3 linked regions of the Homo sapiens genome follow. The protein of the gene in region 3 purifies or fractionates together with the protein of the main gene of each other region. This does not show direct contact. Each region holds a gene or a part of one and is shown on either strand. Other genes may lie near its edges.

What was found. Proteins that work in one complex are often made in the same cells at the same time.
Region 1: the proteins of PDIA6 (region 3) and ZHX3 purify together in Homo sapiens (affinity purification with mass spectrometry; 3 studies listed by BioGRID and IntAct, with this or other methods). This does not show direct contact.
Region 2: the proteins of PDIA6 (region 3) and PLS1 purify together in Homo sapiens (affinity purification with mass spectrometry; 3 studies listed by BioGRID and IntAct, with this or other methods). This does not show direct contact.

What each region holds. Positions count from the first base shown.
Region 1 is NC_000020.11:41,314,711-41,322,634, reverse strand, and holds the start of ZHX3 (zinc fingers and homeoboxes protein 3), read left to right. Parts: upstream 1-4,903; 5' UTR 4,904-5,126; exon of another isoform or gene 5,127-5,773; intron 5,774-7,924. UniProt on the Homo sapiens protein: Acts as a transcriptional repressor. Involved in the early stages of mesenchymal stem cell (MSC) osteogenic differentiation. Is a regulator of podocyte gene expression during primary glomerula disease. Binds to promoter DNA.
Region 2 is NC_000003.12:142,599,391-142,606,413, reverse strand, and holds part of PLS1 (plastin-1), read right to left. Parts: intron 5,887-7,023; exon of another isoform or gene 5,668-5,886; intron 1-5,667. UniProt on the Homo sapiens protein: Actin-bundling protein. In the inner ear, it is required for stereocilia formation. Mediates liquid packing of actin filaments that is necessary for stereocilia to grow to their proper dimensions.
Region 3 is NC_000002.12:10,782,891-10,788,808, reverse strand, and holds the end of PDIA6 (protein disulfide-isomerase A6 isoform d precursor), read left to right. Parts: intron 1-39; coding exon 40-112; intron 113-1,369; coding exon 1,370-1,528; intron 1,529-3,698; exon of another isoform or gene 3,699-3,778; coding exon 3,779-3,875; exon of another isoform or gene 3,876-4,482; coding exon 4,483-4,551; 3' UTR 4,552-5,418; downstream 5,419-5,918. UniProt on the Homo sapiens protein: May function as a chaperone that inhibits aggregation of misfolded proteins. Negatively regulates the unfolded protein response (UPR) through binding to UPR sensors such as ERN1, which in turn inactivates ERN1 signaling.

The DNA of each region.
Region 1 (7,924 bases), on a different chromosome or scaffold from region 3:
TGTCTCAAACTCCTGCCCTCAAGCAATCCTCCCACCACGGCCTTCCGAAGTGTTGGGATTACAGGTATGAGCCACTGTGCCTAGCCAAATAAAAGCATTTAAAAACTAAATTTAGTGTAAGTATGGCCGGGCATAGTGGTTCACTCCTGTAATTCCAGCACTATGGAAGACCGAGGCAGGCAGATCACTTGAGGCCAGGAGTCTGAGACCAGTCTGGGCAACATATTGAGACGCTGTCTCTACTAAAAATATAAAAAATTAGCTTGGCATGGTGGTGCACACCTGTGATCCCAGCTCCTAGGGAGACTGAGGCACGAGAATTGCTTAAACCCAGGAGGCAGAGGTTGCAGTGAGCCGAGATGGCGCCATTGCACTCCAGCCTCAGCAACAGAGCGAGACTCTGTCTCAAGAAAAAAAATTTAGCAGTAAGTGTATAGTGTGTATACAGTCTACAGTGGCATACAGTAATTTACTAGGTCTGCACATTCCCTCACAACTCCCTCACTGACTCACCCAGAGCAACTTCCAGTCCTGCAAGCTCCATTCATAAGTGCCCTGTACAAGTGTACCATTTTAAAATATTTTATACCCTACTTTTACTGTACCTTTTCTATGTTTAGATATGTTTAGATACACAGATGTATACCACCGTGTTATAACTGCCTACAATATTCAGTACTGTAACATGCTGTACAGGTTTGTAACCGAGGAGCAATAGGTTATACCATATAGCCTCAGTATGGTAGGCTTTACCGTCTAAGTTGTGTAAGTACACTGCATGATGTTTGCACAATGAAGCAATAACCTAATCACACATTTCTCAGAACATATCCCTGTCATTAAGCAATGTGTGACTGTACTTCTACTCACATTTTATTGACCAAAGAAAGTCACATGGCTATTCACAAATCCAAGCTATTGTAAGGAAGTACAATCCTATCATGTGCCTACAGAGGTCTTATGGAGAGCATCCCAGTTTTTGTCCCCTTTTTTGCTGGGAAAAAAACAGCTTTCAGGCCAGGCATGGTGGCTCATGCCTGTAATCCCAGCACTTTGGGAGGCCAAGGCTGGTGGATTGCCTGAGGTCAGGAGTTCGAGACCAGCCTGGCCAACATGGCAAAACCCCATCTCTACTAAAAATACAAAAGTTAGCCAGGCGTGGTGGTGCACGCCTGTAATCCCAGCTACTTGAGATGTTGAGGCAGGAGAATCACTTGAACCTGGGAGGCAGAGGTTGCAGTGAGCCAAGACCATGTCATTGCACTCCAGCCTGGGTGACAGAGCAAGACACAGTCTCAAAACAAAACAACAAAAAAAAAACAACTTTTTTTTTTATTGCCACTTAAAAAAGGCCTCCCTACTATGCAGAAATCAAGAACTCAACAATTGTTTCCTGTGTCACTACCAAATGTTTCCCAGGGGTTTTGCCACTATGTGGAACCAGCAGTTCTGTGAGGGACTTCTTTCAAGATACCGCCTCAGCTAGAAACAATTTCCCTTTTCCTGGTAATTGGCCATTTCTTGATTCACAGAGGTGGCTTCCTGGTGAACTTCATGCCTGTAAGCTGGCATGACTGTTCTGGAGGAGAGTACCTACCACAAGTTGGGTCAGTTAGAGCCTTTTCTACATGATTTTGTGATTAGAATGATTAGGGAGTTTTAGTCTCTGGGTAGTTGGAATTGTATCTCATACTTGGGAGAGGTTGGTAGACACATTTCCCATTGTATTATTAATACCTGGAGGCAGAGAAAACAAGTTTGCTGGAGTCATACTGGCTCCCCTTACTCTGCTTCCAGCCCATCCAAAATCCCAGCTAATTATTTCCCTTGGCCTCTGTGAGATCCATCCCACCCAAAGCCTAAAGATAAAGTCCCCTTTTATTTTCCTTGAATTGGTCTGATGGGTTTCTGGTCCTTGCAGCCAGCAAACTTCAGATAGTTCTTTGCCTCTGGACCCTGGCACAAAAAGTTCACAGGTGTAGCCCATTCCAATAAAACAGAGGTCAGGTGGTAACTATTGCATTAACTATACTAGCAGTTTCCTTACTGCTTGAGAAAGCTCATTAGAATGTGAGTGCAAATGACATTATTATAGGGATTACCTGAAATCTGCTTAATTTTTTTTAAAGGAAAGTAATATGCCTCTGTGTGTAAATATCATTTGTGACATACCCCCCAACACTGGTATTAAATGGCTGTTTCTTCTGCCTGGAATCTCTGTCTCAACAACTCTTTAGATGTGGCCCCAAAGTCACCTTTTCTGGGAAGCCTACCCACACTCTCCTGTATATTGTTAATTATGCTATTCTCTGTGCTTCCCAAAGCAGTTGGCACATCCATCTTTGTTACATATTTTCTCCCAGAAGTTTTTTGTTTGTTTGTTTTTGAGACAGAGTTTCGCTCTTGTTGCCCAGGCTGGAGTGTAATGCTGCAAACTCGCTCACTGCAACCTGTGCTTCCCGGGTTCAAGTGATTCTCCTGCCTCAGCCTCCCAAGTAGCTGGGATTACAGGTGCGCCTCACTATGCCTGGCTAATTTTTGTATTTTGAGTAGAGATGGGGTTTCACCATGTTGGTCAGGCTGGTCTCGAACTCCTGACCTCAGATGATTCATCCACCTAAGCCTCCCAAAGTGCTGGGATTACAGGCGTGAGCCACTGTGCCCGGCCAGAAGTATTTTTTTTACATGACTGTTTCCTCTGAAATACTGTTCCTCAAAGGTCGGGAGAATACCTCATTTTTCTCAGGATCCCACTGTGCCTGGATCAAAATAGATGCTCAGAAAAGTTTGTTGAATAAATGAAGTTGTATTGGAGCAGTATAACCTATATACATTCTCATTCATCCCAGAAATACTTATTGAGTACCTGAACATGTCGACCCATGTTCTAGATGTTGAAGATGGGAAAAACAAAGTTCCCACCTTCAGAGATATTATAGATGATATTCAGGTTAGAAGGGCTAGGCAGAAAAGTAAAGCAGGCTTAGAGGATAGTGATTGGAGTTGGGACTTGATACTTTAGTAGAGTGGTCTGGGAAAGTCTGGGGAGGTGACTTTTGAGTAGAAACTTGGAAAGCACACGCCTTTCTGATATCTGGAGGAAGCAACACCAAGTACAGAGGTTCTGAAGTAGAAGTGAGCCTCCATATTCCAGGAGCAAGAAGGAGGCTAGTGTGCCTGGCATGCAATGAGGAGGCCGAGTGGAAGGAGGTGCAGTTAGAGAGGTGGAGAGTATAAGTGGACGAAGGGCAGACACATAGGATCTTGGAAGCCTTTGGGAAAAAAACCACATTTTGGAAATGAAAAAAATAGGTGGGCATGGTGGCGTGCACCTGTAGTCCTAGCTACCTGGGAGGCTGAGGTGGGAGGATTGCTTGAGTTTGGGAGGTTGAGGCTGCAGTGAGCTGTGATGGGGCCACTGCACTCTAACCTGGGAGACAGAGTGAGACTGTGTCCCACTCTCCACCCCACTGCCCCCATATTTTTTTTTTTTTGGCTTTTACTCTGAGATGGGAAACCTTCTGGGGGCTTTTGAGCTTAGGTTTCAACAGGATCCCTCTGGCTTCTGTGTTGAGAGAAGGCACCATGAGAGCACAGTGGAATCGTGGAGAACAGGCAGGAGGCTACTACAATATTCCAGGAAAGAGGAAAAGGGGTATTTTAAAGGTAGAGCTGACAGGCTTTTCTAATGGGTTGCATGTGGGATATGATAGGGAGAGTGGAGTCCAGGATGACTCCAATGGTTTGTCTGGAGTCATCAGAAGAATGGAGTTGACATGAACTGAGGTAGGGAAGGTTGTGAAAGGAGCAAGCTAAGGTGCCACGTATGGGTGTTTGACTATCGACTTGTTTACTTGGACACATCGCTCACACTTGTGTATATGCTCCCTGGTTTTCAGGATCTGAAGGTTCTAAAGTTACTTGAAGTTAAAGGCAGCCTTACTTATTGAACACCAAGCACTGTGCAGAAATCTTTATATGTGGTGTCATTTAACCCTTTTAATATTTCTACTGATTTACTCATGTTTCATTGCCCTTTTACAGTTGAGAGATTAACACGTCCAAAGTCACTCAGACAATTATTAACCTGCTAGATTAATGCAGATCTGGGATTCCCATCCAGGTGTGTCAAGACCGTAGAGCTCCTGCTGTTTACTAATCACTGGATTCTAAAGGTGGGAGCCACTTTCTGAGCATATTTGCTGCAGACTTGGTTCCATAACTAAAAAGGTGCCTGGATCATGTGACGAGAATTCAGGAAAGAACCCAACCCCATCCCAGGCATTACAGGTTATACAACAGCTATGAAGAAAGGACGGTATTAGTGGACTCGAGGAGGCTGACTGATGTTTGAAAGTTCAAGTACTTGAAGACTCAATGTTAAAACAGTGATCAAGAGTTAGTTTTTTTGTTATTATTCTTAAGAAAACAGAAAATATTAAAAATTGCAGTGAACCCTTGGTTGGATAAAAGACCACTCCTAGTCGACGCTTGTTGGGAAACACTGGAATTGGAGGAGTGGGGGCAGACAGGAGCGAGAGCCCCTGCCAGCCTACACACACATCCTTTTGAAAGTGTAACCTGGTGTGACCTTCTTTAAGTGGTCCTCTGGAAAGAGCAGGATATGGAGTACAAAAGCCAGGAACCTCTGGGACCGCAGCATCCGCCCCCAGCGCCTCCTTCCCCGTCTTCTTCAGCCTCCACACGGTGGGGCGGGGAGGAGGGGGGAGGAGGAGTGCTGGCGCATGCGCCGGGGGCAAGGTCCGCTCCCCGCGACGTCAGGGGGCTCGCACCCGCTCGAAAGCCCCGCCCCGCGGCCGCCAGAGGCGACCTGGGCGGACTGGGGGGCCTGGGCCACGCCCCCAGCCGAGTCGAGCAAGGCCGAGGGGAGCCGTGCAAGGCCGAGCAGAGCCGAGCGCCTCCGAGAGCGGCCGAGCCCAGCCGAGCGGCCCGGAGTCGGTTGGTGCAGCTGCGTCCCCGCCGCTCAGCAGTCCGCGGCTCCGGCGTCGCCGCCGCCGCCGCCTCTGCGGGGCCTGCGCCGGCCGCCCGCCCGGCCGCGGGGAGGGAGGCCCGCAGCGCGGGAAGAGCGGCCCGGTCGCGGGCGCCGCCACCGCCGCCGCTGCCAGGTGAGCGCCCGCCACGGCCAGCCGGCCCCGCGTGCCCCCGCGGCTGTCAGTCCCCGGTGTCTGTATCTCTCTCTGCCTGTCAGACCCTGTGTCTGCGCGAGCTCCTTCCCGCCACGCCTGGCCCGCGGCCGGCCCGCAGTCTCAGTCAGCCCCCTCCCGCCGGCTGCCCCTGGTCTTTCTGTCAGCCGCCAGCACCCCCATGCTGAGAGGCTCCGCCCCTTCCCCCCGGAGCCCCGCCCTCCGCCATCTGTCATCACCCCCCGGGCTCCAGGAGCGGGCGTCCAGGGGTCCTAGGGGTCAGGGTAGCCCCGCGTGCCACCATCGTAGAAGGCGCAAAAGGGGGTGGTAGAGGGGAAGCGGGGGCGTTCGCGCAGGCCCGCCTGACCGTGTGAGAGTGCATGCCCGAGTGTGCGTTCCGCGTGTGCACCCGAGAGCCGCCTGCGTCCACGCCCGAGGGCCCTTGCACTCTGCTGGGATGTGGCAGCCCATGCCCCCGGTGTAAAGAGCGTCAGCTCGACCAGTGAAGGCGGCAGAGCCAGGACTCGAACCACTCGGGGTACAGTAGCACCCTGAATCTTGGGACCCTTGTCTGCCCACGCGAAAACACTACACGTGGGCCCCAGGTCCTCGGATTCCCTGAGTGGCGTGTGAGTGGAGTTTGGAGCTTGTTAAGCCTTCCCAGTTTGGGATTTTCATTCAGGGAAGCCTGTTGGAAGTGATTGAGGAGTGGATGGGATGTAGGACTTAGGTGGGGAGTGTTTGAGGGCTTGAGTCATTTTGAGTTGCATGGTTTACATTTCTGAGCAGTGATTGCCCTGGGCTTGTGCCCTGCGAGAAACTTATGTGACTTGGGGTGGGGGAGTGAGGTAGGAAGGAATGCTCCTTTCTGTTTTTATCTATGTGAACACATAGTATATATTTATCCAGATATCCTAAATGTTTATTCATGAGGCGTCCACACGTCCTTAATTTAAAAAAGGATTACAGTAGTTTCCATTTATACACGTTCTTGTGTGTTGTTATCTCAATGCTCTTTATTTGTGGTAACTTAGTATTGCAATATTTCAAAACTAAGAGAAAATGCATCCTAAAACAATTGGTATTTTGCCGGATAATTCTGAACCACGGAGAAGGAGCCAAAAGCGCACTTCATTAGCTGGAACAACTTATTCGAGCTTAATTTGTTTCTAAGAGACATACAGTGGAAAAATCCAGAAGCGCAAAATAGTATCAAAGACACATAGAAAATGAATGAAAAGGGCCCTTCTGTTGCTGCCTTGGAAAGATGGTATCAAAGTTGCTGTAGAGGACAGAGCCACTATGTAATGATCAACATATTAACCAAGTTGGTTTTGTGACCTTGATACATTGAGCGGGGCTTGATTTGTGCAGTGGTTCATGACAGGCAAACATTGCATGGGAAGTGTGGTAATTTTTGGAAAAAAATGTTCCCCATGTTGTTTTGGTTTTTGGTTTTGAGTTTGTTTTTTTTTTTTTCATATTGAAGTAAGATTTCAGACAAGGGAAGTCTCATGGTGGAGTGCTTTTTTCTTTTTAAAGATAACATTAAAAATTACCAAAGTAATTCATGTTTAAGGCAGAAAACTTGAAAAACAAAGAAAAGCATTGCAAACAAAACAAAACAAAAAAAACCCCATAATCCCACAAACCATAGTAAATCACAATTTGGTATTAAGCCTTTTAGCCTTGTTCCCATGTATACGTGTTTTTTCTTACAAAAATGCTATCATACTACACAACTTTTATTCTATGCTTTTTTTCTTTGACTTATAACTAGATTATGAGAGATACATCTTTGTTTTATGAGTAGGAACTTGTGTTTCTCTTTGCAATCCTTTAAAAAATTCAGATCATGTTAGTCCTCTGCTTAGAGCCCTCCAATAGCTTTTTGTCTTAAAGTAAACTCTGAAGGCCTTGCTGTGGCCTGCCAGGCTAACCCTCTTCCGAACAACCATCCTCACTTCGAGCCTTGCCAGACAGATCTCTTTGCTGTTTCTTAAAAACATCAAGCTTACACTTGTAATCACAGCACTTTGGGAGGCCGAGGCGGGCGGATCACGAGGTCAGGAGTTCGAGACCAGCCCGGCCAGCATGGTGACACCCCGTCTCTACTAAAAAAAAAAAAAAAAAAAAAAAAAAAAGCCAGGCCTGGTGGTGCGTGCCTGTAATCCCAGCTACTCAGGAGGCTGAGGCAGGAGAATTGCTTGAACCCGGGATGCGGAGGTTGCATTGAGCCAAGATCACACCACCGCACTCCAGCCTGGGAGACAGAGCGAGACTCTGTCTCAAAAAAGTCAAGCATACTCCAGCCTCAGTGCCTTTGCATTTGCTGTTCCCTCCGCCTAGAACTCTGGTCCCTGGATATTAACATAGTTGACTCCCTTACTTCAGGTCTCTGCTCAAAAGTTAGGTTGTCTGGCTTTGCTTGACTGCATTATCAAATACACCCCATTTCCCTGTTGTTCTTATCCTGCCTTGCTTACCACCACTTGGTAATACATATTTATTTGTTGGTGTATTGTCTCTCTCCCTCATTAACCCTGAAGTGTGAGACTTTTTTTTCACCGATATATCCTCAGGGCTCAGAAACTGCACCTGGCCCATTGTGGGTACTTAATATTTGTTGAATGAATGAAGGAAAGAATGAATGCTCATTATCCATCTATTCATATGACCTTGCTGGTAGCCTTCTAGGCTTCTAGGTAGCTGTGTCATGAGTTAAAATGACAATCTCTTAAAGGTCAGGATATTTCTTTCTCATCTATATCTGAGAAGAA
Region 2 (7,023 bases), on a different chromosome or scaffold from region 3:
ATTTAATCCTATTCAAAGTGAAGATTTTGACAACGTGTGGTTGATATGAAACCTTTAATTTCTCTGAGAAGTCCCGCTGCTTGCTTTAGTAATACCCTTAATGCCTCAGGACATAACATACTCAAAAAAAAACTGTGCATAAAGAAGTTCTAAATGAATCTTGGTATCCTTTCTAGATTAAATGAGCAACATGCACATCACAAGGTCTTCCTTAAGTGTGCCTGAGATGTGAAATAGCATGCAGACTATTCCCACTGATATTTAATAATACATTAACATGCAAAAATGGGTATCATTGTGTACCCTTTTGTACAATGTTTCAGGATTCAGTTATTTCCTCTGAATTACTAGAAAATTACAATGTTTTGGGTTCTCCCATTATTTATTGTCCTAGTGGTATGAGAAATGCTTATAGTAACCTTGCAGAAATACTTCAATTAAGGCTTAGTCTCCCACAGAACAATATATATCACATAGGGAGAATATAACTTTGTAAAATATTTAGAAAGTTTAATCTTTTATCCTACACATTCCAGATGTACATTAGCAGGAAGTATAAGTTTTAAAACAAAACTACTTTGTTCAAGATGAAAGAGATGGATATTTTCCCATGTTAATCAACTCTTATTTCAAGAACTCATTTTAATGTTAATATGCTCCATAGTTGAGGGTTAGCCATAAAATACATTTAGACTTTTATAAAAATTGCACATAAATTTCATAGAGGAATTATTTCATATGGTCAGTAACAGAAGAAAATATGAATTGACTGCAAGAGCACTAGATTTGGAGCTAGACTGAAGTCCCATGAGGTCAGGAGTTCGAGATCAGCCTGGACAACATGGAGAAACCATGTCTCTACTAGAAATACAAAAATTAGCTGGGCATGGTGGCACATGCCTGTAACCCCAGCTACTGGGGAGGATGAAGCAGGAGAATCACTTGAACCCGGGAGGCGAAAGGTTGCAGTGAGCCAAGATTGTGCCCCTCACTCCAGCCTGAGCAACGGAGCAAGACTCTGTCTCAAAAAAATTAACCCTGACATTTTTTCAAATGTTGAAATTATAAGACACAGTTATGAGTTTAATTTCTGGCAGTTTCAAATCAGGCAACCTCCAGCAGGCAAGTCATTCTCTAAGTCTTGGCCACTTATCAGTGAAAGGAAGTAAAATCAGAAAGCTTTTTTAAACATCAATAAATGCCTTTCCTCTATCTTGTAGTTGACTAGTTACTTTCACATCCACTATCTTGTTTAATTATCAAACCTACAGCTGAAGAGAAGGCCTTCCTTCTCATGGGGTCAGAAACAGAATCACAGACTTTGACTTCTCATCCATGGTTCTGATCATAGGCCAACTGGTTTCAGGTATCTAAACTTTAAATTGCCCTAAGACTCATTTTAATTGACCACTAAACATTCAGAGATTTTCAGATTTCCTTTTTCCACTGATAATAATCTTGAATTTTTTTTTTTTTTTGAGACGGAGTCTTGCTCTGCTGCCCAGGCTGGAGATGCAGTGCCGTGATCTCAGCTCACTGCAAGCTCTGCCTCCCGGGTTCACGCCATTCTCCTGCCTCAGTCTCCTGAGTAGCTGGGACTACAGGCACCCACCACCACGCCTGGCTAATTATTTGTATTTTTTAGTAGAGACGGGGTTTCACCATGTTAGCCAGGATGGTCTCAATATCCTGACCTCGTGATCCGCCTGCCTCGGCCTCCCAAAGTGCTGGGATTACAGGCGTGAGCCACTGCACCTGGCCAATAATCTTGAATTTAATTTGGCTATTTGAGGATAAGAAAGGGATCAAGCAAATTGCTATTATTGTTGTTTTTCCAAAATCAACTCACTTCCATGACAACTTCTGATGAAAAACATTGGGTTTTGGTGAGCTGTGTTTCACAGATGGCACCTCACTGACCTGATTAACACTTAAAATTCCAATAACTAGGTCACTCTTAGAAACATTTCCTTGACCAAAAGGATGTCCCAATGATCTTAAACCTGGGGAGAGGGGAAGGAAAAGGGAGACCGCCAGGAAAGAATTCAGAGTGCTCTCCAGGAAGAGACAGCAGGAGTCTTTGAGAGGTTTTGGTTTATTTACAAAGATTATAAATACTAACTTGATATCAACCTAGAGATTCTACTTGTCTAAACCTTTCCCCCTCTTTTATTCATTCCAAGCAGCCCTTGGTCCAAGGTGTAATTAACAAGACCGATCCTTCCACACACATTTACCAGTGTCTTAAATTCAAATCCAAATTCTATTTTGGCAGTACTGCTAAAATCTCTTATTTCTTAGTTCTCAAAAAAATTGAAGGAGCTTTTGTCATTTTTTTAATATAAACATCTTCTTTCTTGAAACTGGATCTATAAACAATTTAATGTATTGTGTTCCTCAATAATAGAGTAAATCTGATTTCTGCTAATATTTTGGGTCAGTGACACCCCAAAACCTTTTGCTTTTTATCATGAAGAAGCCCCTCAGACACCTTCTACCTTACTAATGTCTCCATCCAATTTACTATCAAGAAAAGACAGTTTCTCCTTTTTTTTTGTGGTCAGCTTGGATCTTTTGAAGGAGGCATGTCTGTGTGCAGTGAGTTATCACCCAGATGTTCTTGTAGGTATTTTTTTTTTTTTTTGAGGCAGGGTTTCACTTTGTCACCCAGGCTAAAGTGCAGTGGCACAATCTCAGGTCACTGCAGCCTCAATCTCCTGGGCTCAAAATGATCCTCCCACCTCAGCCTAAGTAACTGGGACTACAGGCACGCGCCACCATGCCCAGATAATTTTTTTGTAGAGACGATGTTTTGCCATGTTGCCCAGGCTGGTGTTGAACTCTTGAGCTCAAGCGATCCACCTGCCTCAGCCTCCCAAAGTGCTGGGATTATAGGCGTGAGCCACCATGCCCAGCCAGTCTCGTAGTTTTATAGCTGTGAATTGCTCACAAAAGTCAATCATAAAATTTAGTTTATCGTAAAGTCTGAAGTCCCTTCACCACTGGACTTTATGAACAAAGCTATGTCTAACTCTGCTAGGAAATATTTTCTGATGAAACAAGTGTTTTAAGTAAGAAAAAACTCTCCCAATCATCTAACTCCTCACCCTTTCTGTGCCCACAATATTACTATAATAAAAAGCAACGTGCCTTTACAGAAGCCATGCTACATATGTCTCACCAAAAACGGCACATAGGCACTTTCAGACACAGTGCTAAAAAGAAATCAGATGATCAAAGTTGAACAGCCTCACATCTCATGTGACCTTACATGTCAGCAAAGTTTCCAGCAATCAAAATTGTATAACCATTTTATAACCAATAAACCCGTATGCAGCACAAATGTCTCTTTCTCCCCGACGTTCATCATCAGCCAGAGTAAAATGTTAATTCGGAACTGGATGAAGTGACAAGCTTTTGAATGTTGAGAGAATGAGGGCCAGAGGTGGCCTCAGCCTCAACACTTTGGGAGGCTGAGGCGGGCGAGTCACTTGAGGTCAGGAGTTGGCGACCAGCCTGGCCAACATGGTGAAACCCCGACTCTACTAAAAATACAAAAATTAGCCCGGTGAAGCCAGAAGCTGCGGCCCTGCCTTTCATATCCTGGGAACACAGAACCACTCAGGGGAAGGTAAAGCAGAACCAGGAAATGGAAAGAGAGCTCAGGCAGCAAGGGAGGGAAGCACGCTCTCAGCTGAGTTCCATTTTGAGACTCCCAGGAGAGTAAGTTCTCTATGTAATTAGGTTCATCAAGAGGAGGGAGAGGAGCACATTTTCTCACAGGTCAAAGCTGGGGCCTATGGGGTGGGGGGGGCCTTTAAATTATTTGTCTTTGACCTGGGGCCTTTCCTGAGGTATCCACACCCACCTCCAATTAGTCCACAGGGACTTCACAACTCCCCAATCTTAAAAATTGGGGGAGAATGTGTTCACACCTGGATTCTTCCTGGGGGTTTATGGCCATAGTTCAAAGGCCTAAGATTAGAGTCATGATCCATAGATATTCCAGGAGCTTCCAGCAGTGGATCCTGACACCCCAGGGAAAGAAATCCTTATACCTGGTCACTCCAGAGTTCTTAGGCTCCTACACAAGGTGAGCTTCCCAGTTTCCCATTGCCAACTCCACAGACACGCCCTGGATGACCACCAACTCACTCCCCAATCACAGCTCCACCCCAAAAGAGGGTGGGAGCAGATCAGAAGTGGCTTTAATGGTGTACCCAGAGAAAAAGCTGCTGTCCCTTTCTCTAGGAATGCTTCAAGAGAAAAGGAGATAAAGACTAAGTGGAATGAAAAAAAAAAAAAACCGGAACGATTTACCACTGTTGTTTTGGTTTTTTTAAATGTGGCTCAAAGAATGTTGGTGGTTCCACCAGCTGAAACCTGTGGCTATTCTAAGCATCTGTTAGAGTTACCTCAGAAAGAGCTTTGCATTTTTGTTAAGATATTTGATTAAGTTATTTGAGCGCTCAGTGTATAAAGTCAGATAGGCCTGGGGTCAAATCTCAGCTCAGCCACTTGTAAACTATATGACCTCAGATAAATGCTTTTATCTATCTCTCTAAGCCTCAATTTTCTCATCTAGAAAATGAGGGTAGGTCAGGTGCAGTGGTTCATGCCTGTAATCTCAGGGCTTCGGGAAGCTGAGGTGGGAGGATTGCTTGAGGCTAAAAGTTTGAGATCAGCCTAGACAACATAGCAAGACCTTATCACTATAAAAAAATTTTTTTTAATAAGCCGGGCACGTTGGTCCACACCTGGGAGGCTGAGGCGGGAGGACTGCTTGAGCCCAGGAGTTCAAGGTTACAGTGAGTTATGACTGTGCCATTCCACTCCAGATTGGGTGACAGACTGAAACCCTGTTTTTAAAAAATAAAAATTAAAAATAAATGAGTAATTGTTGCACCTATCTCACAGGATGGTTTATAAAGATGAAATGATATATTACTTGTATTTAGTATAGTGCCTGGTTCATGGAAGATATTCTGTAATACTAGTTACTAATATTACTATTATTATTTTAAGAAAGATATTTGTCATTTTACAAAGGGCCATGGTAAATTCTAGGATTTAATATTTGGACATTTAAGTGTATGAGACATTAACTTCAACATACTACCTGATTTTGCATCTGCCTAATCAATTTTCACTAACGTCATCATGAAAAACATATATATATAAAAAATATAGGCCGGGCGCGGTGGCTCATGCTTGTAATCCCAGCACTTTGGGAGGCCAAGGCGGGCGGATCACGAGGTCAGGAGATCGAGACCATCCTGGCTAACACAGTGAAACCCCGTCTCTACTAAAAATAAAAAAAAAATTAGCCGGGCGTGGTGGCGGGTGCCTGTAGTCCCAGCTACTCGGGAGGCTGAGGCAGGAGAATGGCGTGAACCCGGGAGGCGGAGCTTGCAGTGAGCCGAGATTGCGCCACTGCACTCCCGCCTGGGCCACAGAGCGAGACTCCGTCTCAAAAAAAAAAAAAAAAAAAAAAAAATATATATATATATATATATATATATATATATATATATATGAAACCAGGCCAACCCTTCCCTTCCCCACTGCTAGCCATTTCTCAAGCTCATTTGTTCTGTCTCTCCTCTCAACTGCTCTCTCTCTCCTTGACATTTTTAATGGACCATCGTTGCCTGTGGAAATATGAAGATGGTGGTCAACCACAGTGTGCAAGTCAATGGCAAGGATGTGGCATCCAACAGCTCCCTCATCGCTGTGTGCAGCTCAATGGAAAGGCTGTGTTTTGATTTGCAAAATGGCTATGATTTGCAAAATGCAACATCTGTTCCAAGTAAACAAATATTCCAAACCACCTCTTGAACTGGAAGTTTGGATTCAGCAGCACTGCTTTCTGTCTTGTTTTTCCAGGTAGAATCTGATCACAATTGTCTCTCTCTCAGCCTTACCTCACCCCCATGTTCTTGGGTCATAAACACCACCCTTTGGTGCCACCCTCCTGGCCTACCCTCACTGCACCTGGCCTACCCTCTCCAAAGCCATTGCTCACCACCTCCTGGTAGTGTACAATATATCTAGGAAATAGACTCTCAGTCCCAAGGACTTTGGGCCAACCCATTTGTGTCTGCCTCTGACAAGCTAAGCTACCATGACCTTTCCAGACTTCAACTCCCCAGTGTGAAGATTCCTAGGACCCCAGCCTCACTCCCTCCTCACTGTGTACACTCAACCTTGAACTGGCCAGCAGCCTTGTGTTTCACCTCTTCCGATGACACACACATTCTCTCATCGACCACCAAATTTCCCCCTTAGATTGGTTTCTGAGGGCTTTCAGTCCACAGAACATCTTGAACTGGAGTGTCTTGCTACCAACTCAAATTAATCTTGGGAGGCTGAGCATGGTGGCTCAGGCCTGTAATCCTAACACATTGGGAGGCTGAGGCAGGCCAAAGAATTCAAGACCAGCCTGGGAAAAATAGTGAGACCCCATCTCTAAACACAAAAAAATACAAAATTAGCCACGCATGGTGGCACGTGCCTGTGGCCACAGCTACTTGGGAGGCTGAGGTGGGAAGGATCACTTGAGCCCGGGGAGGTCAAGGCTGCAGTGAGCAGTGATCGTGCCACTGCACTCCAGCCTGGGTGACAGAGTGGGACCCTGTCTCAAAAAATAAATAAATAAATAAAAATAATCGTGGGGCCAACAACCTCAAAAAGTAATAGTTAATGAAAAGAGCTTGGGTCTAGTAATGAGGAAATTTGAACAGAGCTTCTGGCTATCCCACTAACTAGCTTAGTTAAGAATATCTGGCCGGGCGCGGTGGCTCACGCCTGTAATCCCAGCACTTTGGGAGGCCGAGGCGGGTGGATCATGAGGTCAGGAGATCGAGACCATCCTGGCTAACAAGGTGAAACCCCGTCTCTACTAAAAATACAAAAAATTAGCCGGGCGCGGTGGCGGGCGCCTGTAGTCCCAGCTACTCGGGAGGCTGAGGCAGGAGAATGGCGTGAACCTGGGAAGCGGAGCTTGCAGTGAGCCGAGATTGC
Region 3 (5,918 bases):
TTATCTTTACCTTTAAAAAACTTTGTCTATTTAAATCAGGAGCTGCAGGCAGAAATTCTTATCTGGAAGTTCTTCTGAAGTTGGCAGACAAATACAAAAAGAAAATGTGGGGGTAAGTTACTGAGCTTACTGTCTGAGTGTCATCTGAACAGCTGATTATAGGCTTTCTTGAGAGTGGTTCCCCCGTGTTTTTGTAAGCTGTGTTCTATGTTTGCTCTGCTATATGTTTTTTTTTTTTTTCCCTCCTGCCTCAGCCTCCCAAGTAGCTGGGATTATAGGCGCCCGCCACCACACCCAGCTAATTTTTGTATTTTTAGTAGGGTCAGGGTTTCACCATGTTGTCTAGGCTGGTCTCAAAACTCCTGACCTCAAGTGATCCACCTGCCTCCACCTCCCAAAGTCCTGGGATTACAGGTGTAAGCCACCGCACCCGGCCTGCTCTGCTATATGTTTTTATTCAGGATGTGAAAACTTTATCATGGGAGGAAAAGAAGGAATGAAGGGCTGTCAGCACAGCATGCATTTTTCTCATAGGAATCATGTTTTACATGGTGATTGGAGTGCCAGGTTAGCAGGCAGACACATAAGGAGTAGTGCACCTGAATTCTACTGTGAACTTGAAGGCTGGGTGAGAAAGGGGAAATAGAATTGTTTCCTTCTCCTCTTCTGAGTTAAGGACTGGATCTAGGCACATTTTCAAAACAGTGTATCTCTTTCCTATTTTATCCTTTTTTTTTTTTTTTGAGACAGAGTCTCACTCTCTTGCCCAGGGTGGAGTGCAGTGGCACAATCTCGGCTTACTGCAACCTCCGCCTCCCGGGTTCAAAAGATCCTCCTGCCTTAGCCTCCTGCGTAGCTGGGACTACAGGCGCACGCCACCATGCCCGGCTAATTTTTGTGATTTTAGTAGAGATGGGGTTTGCACCATATTGGTCAGGCTGGTCTCGAACTCCTGACCTCAGGTGATCCACCTATCTTGGCCTCCCAAAGTGCTGGGATCACAGGCGTGAGCCACCGTGCCCAGCCTCCTTCCTATTTATCTTTTTGCTTCTTGTCCTCAGTATCCATTGCTTTCCCCAGGTACCTAGCGCCCCCTGTTGTCCCTCTCTCGATGACCTTGCTCCTCCTCCATTAGTCCAGCAAATGTTTATTAGATGCCTACAGAACGCGAGAACATGCTTAATAACCCAAATGATATTGGTGGGATTTCAGGTAAAAAGGGAAAATCCATATAGAAACTCATCTTTTGTTTTTATTTGTCATTCTACGAAATATCTGAAGCGTGATCTTTTGTTCTCTAAGATCTTCTAGTTAGATCGTAAGCAATTTAAAAGACATATTTGCCCTAAAAACCAGTCTGGTTTTCTAGGTGGCTGTGGACAGAAGCTGGAGCCCAGTCTGAACTTGAGACCGCGTTGGGGATTGGAGGGTTTGGGTACCCCGCCATGGCCGCCATCAATGCACGCAAGATGAAATTTGCTCTGCTAAAAGGCTCCTTCAGTGAGCAAGGCATCAACGAGTTTCTCAGGTAATTTGTTTTCTTAGGTTGTTTGTTGTTTTGTCTGTTTGTTTGGTTCTGTTGTAGGTTTATATTTGGAACTAGGTATATATAAGCCAGGTAATAAATGGAATTTAAAATGCAAACTAATTCCAGAGAATTGAATGTTTATACATTAGAGTTTTTAAATTGTCTCCCTGTTCGTTCTTTTTTCCATGGAATACTCTGCTTGCGGGATGAGGAGAAAGCATTGCTACCCTCGGGCCGCCCTGTGTGCCATTCTGTGCATCTGGCCCTGGGCTCTTTCTCATTCTCATAAAGGTCTCATATGGGCTAGAGGCAGCCCTGTCTGTCCATCCTCACCCTCATATGCATTGTAATCTTGACCTTGGGGAAATGTGGTTTCCATTTCTGGGCACTTGGCTTTGGAATGTAGTTATTTATTTGAAAATGGGCGTACTTAAGTTACTCCAACAATGTGCAAACAACATGATAGGTTCTAAAACCAATATACAGAGCTGTCTACTCTGCTCTGCTATTCAGCTCACCTAATCATCTTTTAGGCAATACAGGGCATTGACCTAAAGAGGTTTTATTTCCCATTCTTGCTTTCTTCCGCGTTCATTTCTTAGCTGCTGTATAAGAGATGTTCAGCACACAAAAGGTAGTTGAGAGGCTTGTGTTGAATAATGAATAGGAAGAACAGTACATGAAAGCCTGCAGTGCTCTTGCTGCCAGTCTTCCTACTTGACACAGAAGTTTGTGTGCTGTGTGGAGACGTGTGTGTGTGCTGTGTGGAGAGTAGGGGCTCCAAAGTCAGGTGCCTCAGTCACAGCTCTGCCTTGAGTAGTGAAGTGGGAGGCATGGAGGAAGCCCTGTGAGATCAGCTGCTTCAGCCTCTGCCGGCGGGGGGCAGACTGTGGCTCCTTCCCTCCCAGCTCTCTCTCATTGTAGTTGGTTAATATGGTTAATGGGTGTTTTCTTTCCCCCCCACCCCCGAGACAGAGTCTTGCTGTGTCGTCCGGGCTGGCACGATCTCGGCTCACTGCAACCTCCACCTCCCGGGTTCAAGTGATTCTCCTGCCTCAGCCTCCTGAGTAGCTGGGATTACAGGCGCCTGCCACCACGCCCAGCTAATTTTTGTATTTTTAGTAGAGATGGGTTTTCACCAGGTTGGCCAGGCGGGTCTCAAACCCCTGACCTCAAGTGATCCACCCACCTCAGCCTCCCAAAATGCTGGGATTACAGGTGTGAGCCACCACGCCTGGCCAAGGGGGTGTTTTCATTAAGTTTGTGGGGCTGGGTGCGGTGGCTCACGCCTGTAATTCCAACACTTTGGGAGTCTGAGGCAGGCGGATCACTTGAGGCCAGGAGTTCGAGACCAGGCTGGCCACCACGGTGAGACCTTATGTCTACTAAAAATACAAAAAATAGGCCAGGTGTGGTGTTGTAGGCCTGCAGTCCTAGCTACTAGGGAGGCTGAGGCACACCCAGGAGGTGGACGTTGCAGTGAGCTGAGATCACACCACTGCACTCCAGCCTGGGCAAAAGAGTGTGACTTGGTCTCAAAGAAAAAGAAGTTTGTGGACTGCTTAAGTTTGTGATTGTCATAGAGTAGTATTTATTAAATCATGAAGTCAGAATGTGAATATATCTCCTGTAATTTTTTTTTCTAATAATAGGTTTGCTTATTCTAGCCCATTGGTGCCATAGATTGTTAGTCTAGCTCTATTATTCTATGAGTTGTTTGGTGAACTCTAAATATTTGTGCCCACAGTATTTCTGGCTCTGGTTTCCCAACAGCCAGATTACACCAGGTCTGGTATGTTTCAAGTACTGATGTTTATGCACATACGCACCCCGCTCTCTGCCAGCGCACTGGAACCAGTCGCCTCACTTCTGATATGCTCCCTCTGTACAGGTTCACAGCAGTCTTAGAAAGCTCGCAGGCAGCCCATGTTCTAGATCAACTTTGATAATTATTTATGTATTTAATTTGTATTTCAGCAAATGCTCTGCTATTTTTAAAAGCTTACTGATAGCAACTGACTTTATCTGATGCAGGGGGCTTAGTTGGGAATGTTGAATCTGGTTGTAATGTTGTCCGTGATTAAAAAGATAATGTCCTCAAGGTGTTTCTGAGGAATGTAGTGCAGCAAGAGAGAAGAAATGCCTCTGCATAAACAAAGTAGGCAGACTGTTATTTTTAAAGTTGTTTATTCTTCTGCACCAGCAGTCCATTGTAAATGTGTGTGTGTGTTTTGGTCATTTTTCCCTAAGGGAGCTCTCTTTTGGGCGTGGCTCCACGGCACCTGTAGGAGGCGGGGCTTTCCCTACCATCGTTGAGAGAGAGCCTTGGGACGGCAGGGATGGCGAGGTGAGTGCCCGGGAGGGAAGCTGTGCGGGCAGCAGTCCTGGTTTACTCTCTTGAGCCTGTGCATCTCTGCACCTGGAGTCAAGTCCTTCCCATCAGACCTCAGCCCTGGTGCACCCGTGGGCCTTTTAAGAGGTTCTTCTCTGAAGACCCTTCATCTTCCTTATCACAAGTTTAAGTGCTGCATGGCATTTGATACTCTTGACAGCCAAGATACATTTCAGTAGTAAGGTTGCTTTCCTGATTATTACCTTAAAGTGAACATTTAACCTGGAATTCATTTACTTTATCTTAGAAAAATAGAAAATGATAGCTTTGAAATTAGCACTTATTTCTGTACTGTTGTGTCCCACCCTCCTCAAAAGGACACGTTCAAGTGGCTTCCAGTGTTAAAATGGTGAGTGATGTGATGTTGAAATGTTTCACCTGAGTTCTGAGCTTTTCCATCCGTATAATCATAGGTACGAAGGTCAGGGTAGGAGTCAGACTGAGGAGAACCTGGATTGTAGCAGGAGTAGCTCCAGAGAGTCGCTCTTCCATAAAATGAGATGTTGACCTTCCAGGGTGTCCCCTTCTGCAGATCTAACAGTGGCTTTCTGTCGTCTCCCAGCTTCCCGTGGAGGATGACATTGACCTCAGTGATGTGGAGCTTGATGACTTAGGGAAAGATGAGTTGTGAGAGCCACAACAGAGGCTTCAGACCATTTTCTTTTCTTGGGAGCCAGTGGATTTTTCCAGCAGTGAAGGGACATTCTCTACACTCAGATGACTCTACCAGTGGCCTTTTAACCAAGAAGTAGTACTTGATTGGTCATTTGAAAACACTGCAACAGTGAACTTTTGCATCTCAAGAAAACATTGAAAAATTCTATGAATTGTTGTAGCCGGTGAATTGAGTCGTATTCTGTCACATAATATTTTGAAGAAAACTTGGCTGTCGAAACATTTTTCTCTCTGACTGCTGCTTGAATGTTCTTGGAGGCTGTTTCTTATGTATGGGTTTTTTTTAATGTGATCCCTTCATTTGAATATTAATGGCTTTTTCCATTAAAGAATAAAATATTTTGGACAATGCCGATAAATGTATGAAGTTAGTATCCACATCATAAATTCAGAGTGATGTTTAGCAGTAAATCAATATTTTGAAGTGATACACAGATGTCTTTCCTCCCCACAAACTTTTTTAAACAAAAAACAAGACCTCTTTTCTTTAGATGGTGCCACCTATGCCCACCACAACAGAGATTTTACATGGAAACCGGGCTCAGTGAGAACTGATTTCCTGCCCAATATTTGTCTTTGGGCTGTCTCTAGTGACTAATTATTAAGGAATCTAGCTGGTTATACAGTTCAAGGCTTTCTATGTTGTTAATGAACCTCAAAATAGCCGTTAAGACATGAAATACAGCAGCAGGTTACCAATGCGAACAGGTAGTTCGCATTTATGTAAAACATTCAGAAAATGAAGTTTTGAATTTGTTGGAACATTCAAAGGACTTGAGAGCATTTTATTGTAACTTAAAAAAATAAATACAACTGTCACTAACTTTTGTGAGCAATTTCTCTGAAAAAGATCTTAGTTCTGTAAGACATTTGAACCATTCTCTGGCTAAAGGAAAGAGGTGTCTGTAATAATCTGCACGAACATGAGACAGAGGTGCCAGCTGGCCTTTCTAGTCAAGAAGACTAAGGTCAATATGGAAGTAGACATAAGGAAAATAGTCTTGGTTATTGAGTTGCAGTCCCGGGATCTCCACAGATGCCTACAAAAGAAGACATGGTAATGCTCTAAGTGCATAAACTAGTTTCCTGTCTTATCCTTTTAGTTTTGAGGAAGCTCGCCAGGCACTGAGCGTACGTTCTGCTCTGCGTAGCTGTGGTCCACCCCTCCAACCCTCTCCTTGCTGTGCTTTAATGTGTATGACATGTAGATTTTCATAACAGGCTGACAGATAGTTTTGCTTTGTTTTGTTTTTGAGACAGTTTCTGTCACCCAGGCTGGACTCAGCTCACTGCCTGCCTCAGACTCCCAAGTAGCTGGGATTA